Homo sapiens: one gene and its partner. The protein of the gene in region 1 purifies or fractionates together with the protein of each later gene. This does not show direct contact. Each region holds a gene or a part of one and is shown in the gene's direction. Other genes may lie near its edges.

What was found.
Region 2: the proteins of PAXBP1 (region 1) and DHX15 purify together in Homo sapiens (co-immunoprecipitation; one study listed by IntAct). This does not show direct contact.

The regions. Positions count from the first base shown.
Region 1 is NC_000021.9:32,733,563-32,737,391, reverse strand, and holds the end of PAXBP1 (PAX3- and PAX7-binding protein 1), read left to right. Parts: coding exon 1-138; intron 139-2,324; coding exon 2,325-2,442; 3' UTR 2,443-3,493; downstream 3,494-3,829. UniProt on the Homo sapiens protein: Adapter protein linking the transcription factors PAX3 and PAX7 to the histone methylation machinery and involved in myogenesis.
Region 2 is NC_000004.12:24,574,252-24,578,080, reverse strand, and holds part of DHX15 (ATP-dependent RNA helicase DHX15), read left to right. Parts: intron 1-1,402; coding exon 1,403-1,838; intron 1,839-3,829.

The DNA.
Region 1 (3,829 bases):
CAAACAATGGTTCATGAATCTGAAAGGAGAAAGGACTATTTCTCAGTTAGAAAACTTTTGCCGATACCTTGTACACTTAGCGGATACAATTTATAGAAATAGTATCGGGTGTTCTGATGTGGAAAAAAGAAATGCAAGGTAATTTTGTAATTAATGAAATGGTAATCTAGAGTTGTTTAGTTGCCAGATTTAGTATTAAAATGTTTTAAGTAGAGATGTTTATATTTTAGTTTAAATTGTATGTTCACTTAGTATTATAAACCTACCAAAAATGCACATAATTTTTCATTTTAGCAGTTTTTACTTTTTTTCAGTATGTTATTTATGAAGATACTAAGGAAAGACTTCTGGTAAGGACCAACCCTCAGGGGAGTGAGTAAACGGTTGTTTTCTCTGTCTCCCTCTTTGAAGAATTAGAGAGGTCTCAGACTCTCTTGTTTGGAGTTTCATTATGCAGATTTAAATTCAAGTTTATCTCCCAATTTGGGGAGATTTTTTGTTTTAATCAATATTATGAACTAGAGGTTATCACTCATGGCTTTTTGGGGCAACTTATTTCTAATTTTTATCAAGGGTTGTAAGAAAAGAGTGAGTGAACCATTAGCCTTTCTGTGGACATTAATTTATGGGTGTTCAGGTAATTCTGGGATAAATCTCTAGCATAAAAAGTAAATAATAACACTAAGTAGGGCAGTTTGAAGGAATTGTCTTTTTAAAATTTTAATTTCATATATCTTCATAATGTCAAAGTCTAATTTTTGTTTAGATCACACCATTAGTCATACCCCTATAACAAAACCTTCTTCTGATCCCTCATTCCCCTTTCTTGAAAAAGGACCTATTTTCCTGCAAGAAAATTGGATATTTTTTCCACAATAAAATTAAAGTAGCTATTAAAGATTTTAGGCCAGGCATGGTGGCTCATGCCTGTAATCCCAGTACTTTGGGAGGCTGAGGCAGGTGGATCATGAGGTCAGGAGATGGAGACCATCCTGGCCAACATGGTGAAACCCTGTTTCTACTAAAAATACAAAAATTAGCTGGGTGTGGTGGTGCGTGCCTATAGTCCCACCTACTCGGGAGGCTGAGGCAGGGGAATTGCTTGAACCTGGGAGGCAGAGGTTGCAGTGAGCTGAGATTGCGCCACTGCATTCCAGCCTGGTGAAAGACCAACACTCCGTCTCAAAAAACAACAACAAAAAAGATTTTAATGGTAAAATTCTTTGGCAGGTTTTGGCTGATTTGATTTTGTTCTTAGTGTGTGCCATTTTGTTATTTGTTGGCACTAATATTTTTTTCTCTGTGTTTTCTACTAGATAAATTTTATCACATTTTAAACTTTGATTTACATATATTTAACAGTGTTTCTGTTTGGAAGTTAAATATCAACAAATAGTGTTTACTTTTCTACAGAAAAGAACTTTAACAGCTATGTAAGCACCTGCTTTGTGCAGTGCACATAAAGCAGGTTTCATGTGGGTTGGAAAGTTTTGCAAATTCTAATTCTTCCCTAATAGGTGCTTACTACAATTCTGTAGAAGAGATGAGACAATTACTAATGTCATATTATGTCTTGTTTCTCGTGAGTGGTTTAAGCTAAATGTTAAAACAGTCATTCTTAAAGTGTGGTCCCTGGACCAGCAGTATCAGCATGGCATGGGAGTCTGATAGACTTGCAAGTTCTCGGGGCCCCACTCTGGGCCTCTTGAATAGAACTCTTGGGGTGGGGCCAGGGATGATCTGCATTTCAACAATCCTCTAGGTAATTCTAATGTGTGCTAAAATTTGAGGATTACTTCCTAGTAAGAAAGCAGAATGACTTCTAGCTGGAGTGATAAGGAAAGTCAGATTATACTTTATTTAGTGAATTTTGGTGGAGTGGAAATTATGCTGGATCTTGACAGATTGGTGATGAAGAGACACAAATAACGATTTGTGTTCCAGGTATACGCTAAAACAGCCAGGACTCTGGTTTGGGAAGGAATGGGAGACAGGCCTCTGAAGTAGTTTGAAAACAGATTGCTTTCTTTTCTTTCTCAATATTAATGAAACTCATTGATCTCAATGAATTTTGTTTTGCTTTTTTAAAATGGGTCCCCTGTCTCTGGGCTAGTCATTTAAACATATGTAAGTTTTGTTCTATATGGATAAATGTAAACTTTTTTTTTTTTAACATGCTGTAGCTTGCATATCTGTTTCCTTTCTTTGAAAATGTGTGCTTGGAAAAATTGATTGCAGAAGCTCTAAAATAGCCATGAAATCAGTAGCAAATTTTCTCTTAGATATACTAATTAATGAGATGCTGCTATATTTTTTTCTTTTAGGGAAAACATAAAACAGATAGTAAAACTCCTTGCAAGTGTTCGAGCTTTGGATCATGCTATGTCTGTTGCAAGTGACCACAATGTGAAAGAATTTAAGTCTTTGATCGAAGGAAAATAGATCTATGAGACTGAAAAACCTATTTGCTTGATTACCATTCCCAATGTGTAAATTTTGTATATATGTAAAGTTTCTTAAACTGTAAAATAGCAATTCTTGTTTTAATACAAAAAACATTATATTCAATACTGTGTCCTTAAATGATATTTCTTCAGAATGAAAGGAATTCAGATTATTTCTAGGAGTCTATGAATGTTTTCTTTACTGCCTGTCATACTTTGTTTACTGAAGTATTTTGTATGGTCATTTAAATTAACCCTCTCAGTTAATTGTCCCCTGTAAACGATGTGTGCAGTGTAAATTGTGTAATTATGCATATATATATTTATACCACCATGGACTTACTTTCACACTGGAAATTTGTGGTGTTTTTCCACAGAGGAAGCCTTTTAACAGCAGAAAATTATCCGGTAGCAAATTGTCTTAGGGAAATTACTACACTGTTGTAACAAAAGGGCTGGCAAGTGACTAAATGTTCATTACCTTTTGGTTAGCGTTGCTATCACTGTAGCTGTGCTGCCTTAACATTGAGAGTTGAGTTGTGGACTTAGTCATTGAGTGAATGTTGAACTTTCTTCCTTGAATCAGCGTTAGAGTCAAATGTGGGTTTAATGTGAATGCTAAATGAATATGCAACATAGTTTCAAATGGAACATAGAAATTTCACTTTTGAAAATAATAAACCCACAACCTAATTGCATGGTTTTGGGCTGACCGTCCTGTCTCATTCATGATTTTACTCCCTGCCCAGCTTGCAGATACATGCATTTGAATTTTAGTAGTCTGTCATATTTAAAATCCCACATATGTGAGTTAAATATGCAATAAAGAATACGCCTTGCTGATTAGCCACACCCAGGCAATTTAATATCCATGGTCTTCTATAATGTTTATACCACATTGTAAATATTCAGAGAACTTGTTTTAAAGTTTATGCTTTCTGATTCTGTGATTTTCAAAAGAGGAATTTTTTTGGAAATTAAGGACTATCGTTTGATAATTATATATGTAATTAAGATTTAGCCAAGCATTAAATTAATTTTTAAATATATCCTTTGTTGTATTTTCCTGACGACTAAATTTGCAGCATTTCAAATGACTCTAATAAAGTGGGACTGTGAGCAGGCCCATGTGTACCCTTGATCAGGACATAATATGCAGAACAGTGTCATGCACTGTATTTGCTCTGTTAATTTTATCTTATCCCTACATATTTGTATTAGTTCATTCTCACGCTGTTATAGGGACATACTTGAGACTAGGTAATTTATAAAGAGGTTTAATTGACTCACAGTTCCGCATGGGTGGGAAGGCCTCAGGAAACTTACAATCTTGACGAAAGGCACGTCTTCACAGGGTGGCTGCAGAGAGAAATGAGTGCTGAGGG
Region 2 (3,829 bases), on another chromosome or scaffold:
GATGGAAGAGGGGAAAATCACTTTTCATGTTTATATATGCATATATATGGCTTTTCCCCTTTTTGAGTAAATTTGTACATGTCACACAACTGCACTTGGAGCACAGGGAATTTGTACTTTTGTGTATTGTGGGTAAGGAACAATGACATGTTTCGGGGCTTGTGTCATAGCTCCGTCATGTCTCATTATTTCAAGTCTGGGTTTAAAGATCTTGAGGCAAATTTCTCTGCTGATGGACTTGGTCTGAAGTAAACTGGATTAGTAAAATGAACAAGCATAGATTATTTTATTTTATTCCCACCACCAGTCTCCCAGAGGCTGCTTTCAGCCACAACGCATATGAACAACCTGCAGCCATTCTGCTTGTGAAGTTCTTAGCATAGATACTTTTAAAATGACTTATTAAGGTCAATCTCTAGTAACTGGAAGTAGATACCAGCATTGACTACTTAAAATTGACCCAGGTTTAATAGAGTGGCTACCTGCATAATTTTAACATGTTAAACAACTTAATAGTGTTTAGCAAAGCTTATTTTTAATTTGGCTATGTTTCATTTTATGGTAGACCAAGGTACATAGATTTATAGAGTGCTTTCAGTGTTTTGCTGTTGCTGTTTAGGTTAAAATGCAAGAGTAAACAAGCAAGAAGGAATAAAAGTTTTAATTTCAGTTTTTTTAATAAAGCAATATACATTTACTGAACAAAATTGGGAAAGTGCTGGAAAGTATAACTAAGAAAACAAATTCTGCAGTCCTGTAATTCGTATTTGTATTAGTTGAGATATTGACAGGTATAACATTGTACTATGCTCTTTTCACTTTGCATTACAACCGAACATCGTCCTATGGCAAAGAAAGGAATATTAAAGTAATTTATTAGAAGTGGATTATAAAAGTATTGAGCAAAACCCACCACTGTTGACTGTAATGATGTGAGGTGGAGTTGTCTTTATCTCCAGTAGCAGTGTTTGTGCTAACTTCTGAATATACTTTTAGTGCACAAAATACCTCTTCACAAATTGAAGGAGAATTTGAGAAAGATTGAGATGCCATCTTCTTTTACTCAATTTGGACCTATCCTTTCTTCATCCTACCCTCAGTATCTGATTTCTGTTGTCTAAGTAGGAGGGGTTTTACTTGCAGCAGACTGAGTTCTTGTGTTACCTCACCTAATGTTAAAAGTTAAGGAAGGTGGGGCATCAGCAAGGAAGGGAAAGATGTTTGTGGTGGAGAATGGGAAACCCTTGATTGTAGGGTATTTTTTATTATTTCTGATAGTTACATAATCCATTGGACTTTTTATTCATTTGAACGTTGGACATTTACTCTCTTTGTGATTATAACGCTACCGTGAACATTCTGCATAAAATTCAGAATCTGAATTCTAAATTTTTGTTTTTAGGAAGGATCGAGATCGAGACCGGGATCGTGAAGATCGGTCTAAAGATCGAGACCGAGAACGTGATAGAGGAGATAGAGAGCGAGAGAGGGAGAAAGAAAAGGAGAAGGAGTTGCGAGCTTCAACAAATGCTATGCTTATCAGTGCTGGATTACCACCTTTGAAAGCTTCCCATTCAGCTCACTCAACCCACTCAGCACATTCAACGCATTCAACACATTCTGCTCATTCAACGCATGCCGGACATGCAGGTCACACGTCACTTCCACAGTGCATTAATCCGTTCACCAACTTACCCCATACTCCTCGATACTATGATATTCTAAAGAAACGTCTTCAGCTCCCTGTTTGGGAATACAAGGATAGGTTTACAGATATTCTGGTTAGACATCAGTCCTTTGTACTGGTTGGTGAGACTGGGTCTGGTAAAACAACACAGGTGAGTTATTGTATACCATGGTACATATTTCATTTATGTTTAAGTTTACCAAATGTTGCATATTTGATTCTGGTGGTCATTTCCCTTGTCTGTCCTATAGAACATCTTGAAGAATAGCTGATTTGATGTTTAATTGGCACTCTGAATTTCAGAGTGGAAATCCTATAGAGAATACCTCTCCCCTGAATCTAGGGGAAAATAGTGGTGCTCGCTTTTCAAATTTTGTTACCTTATGTATGGCAGAGGTATTTTGACTCCCGGACAGTACAGATTTAGGGACCCACAGTTTGTTTTCTGGTACTTGGGTGGAGAAATCACTGGGGTAGATTTTTGTCGTTTGTATTTAATATGGTATTTTGAACCATGCAAAAAATGAAATGCCAAAGTAATATAAAGTCTATACCGGTGACTTTTGTCCATCTAGTCGTCCTCCCTCCCATAGAACTAAACACTGTTACTAGTGTGTTATTTGTAATATAGCTAGGATATTTTTTAAACATGGATGGGCTATTATTAACTAGACCCCTGTTGATAGACATTTAGACTGTTTCCCATGGTTGTTTTGCATGGGTCAAGTGTTTCTGTAGGAAGCAGAAATTGCTGGGTCAGAAGATCATTTGTAATTGTGATACAGAAAGCTGGATAGCCTTCCAGAGGGAGCGTATCAATTTACCTTTCCATGAGCATGTAGGAGAACACGTGGGAAACTATTAAAACGTGAATTTTTACAAATCCAATAGGTGAAAAATTGCATTCTAATGTACTTTTTAATTTGCATTTTCTTGCTGTGGGTGAGAAGTAACTGTCTTTATACACTTAAGCCTGAACCATCAATTAAAAATTTCTGGTTTCAAAAGTAGCAGTCCCTGATCATTGTAGAAACTTTGAAAAATTCAGGAAAGTATTGAAGTGAATTACCTGTCTTACCATGCAGAGATTGAACATACCGCATACACAATTTATCTTTTTCTAAAGTTACATGTGCATGGAGACATTTTGAAGGTACTGTAGCAACCAAAATAGGAAGCTTTTATTATAGACTGAGCCTTAGTACCATTCTTCTTTTCTTTTCTTTTTTTTTTTTTTAATTTTTGTGTTGTTGTTGAGACAGTCTTTCACCCATGCTGGAGTGCAGTGGTATGAACACAGCGTCAACCTCCTGAGCTGAAGCGATCCTCCTGCCTCAGCCTCCCAAGTAGCTGGGATCACAGGCATATGCCACCAGTGCCTGGCTAATTTTTAAATAAAATTTTTGTAGAGTTGAGGTTTTGAACTCCTGAGCTAAAGCAATCCTCCTGCCTTAGCCTTGCCAATTTTTCTTTTTTAATGAAGGAAAACTTAGAATTGATGTTAGGGTATTCAAAAATCACCTTACGGAAATTTTAAGAATTTTCAAACTACAAGAAAGACTGTAACTCTGAACTTACTATTTAATTGATATTTGGGTAAAGCCAGACACTGTATACTTTACATGTATTAGCTCATTTACGTTTTTCTATAACCCTGCAGGAAGATATTCATCACCACTTTACAGATGAGCAAAATGAGGTTTAAGTTTATGAGAAACTTAGGTTTAGTGGATTGTCCTGGGTTACATGGATTATGGATTTTGGTGGGCTCAATATTTAAAACTTTGTACCTTTTGTCTTTATATCTAAAGTTTTATATTTCATACTGCTATTCTGTGGTCTGATTATGGGTAGCCTCATTTCAGAGATGAGTTTATTAATGGTTAGTGTAGAAGGAGGTCAGGTCAACTCAAGATGAGGTTTGTGATTATTTGGATTAATATTTAACTTTTAGAGGGGTAATTAAGATACTTGGATACTGAGGATTGCAGCACATCTGGGGGATTTGAAGGGAAACCAAACAGTTTAAAAAGTGAATTTCATTCAAATGTTTCCTAGCATGCTCTTATTAAACTTTGACTCAAACCATTAAAGCCAGTCTTTTTTTGGTGATTTGTTCTTGTCAGAAAAATTCTCTAAACA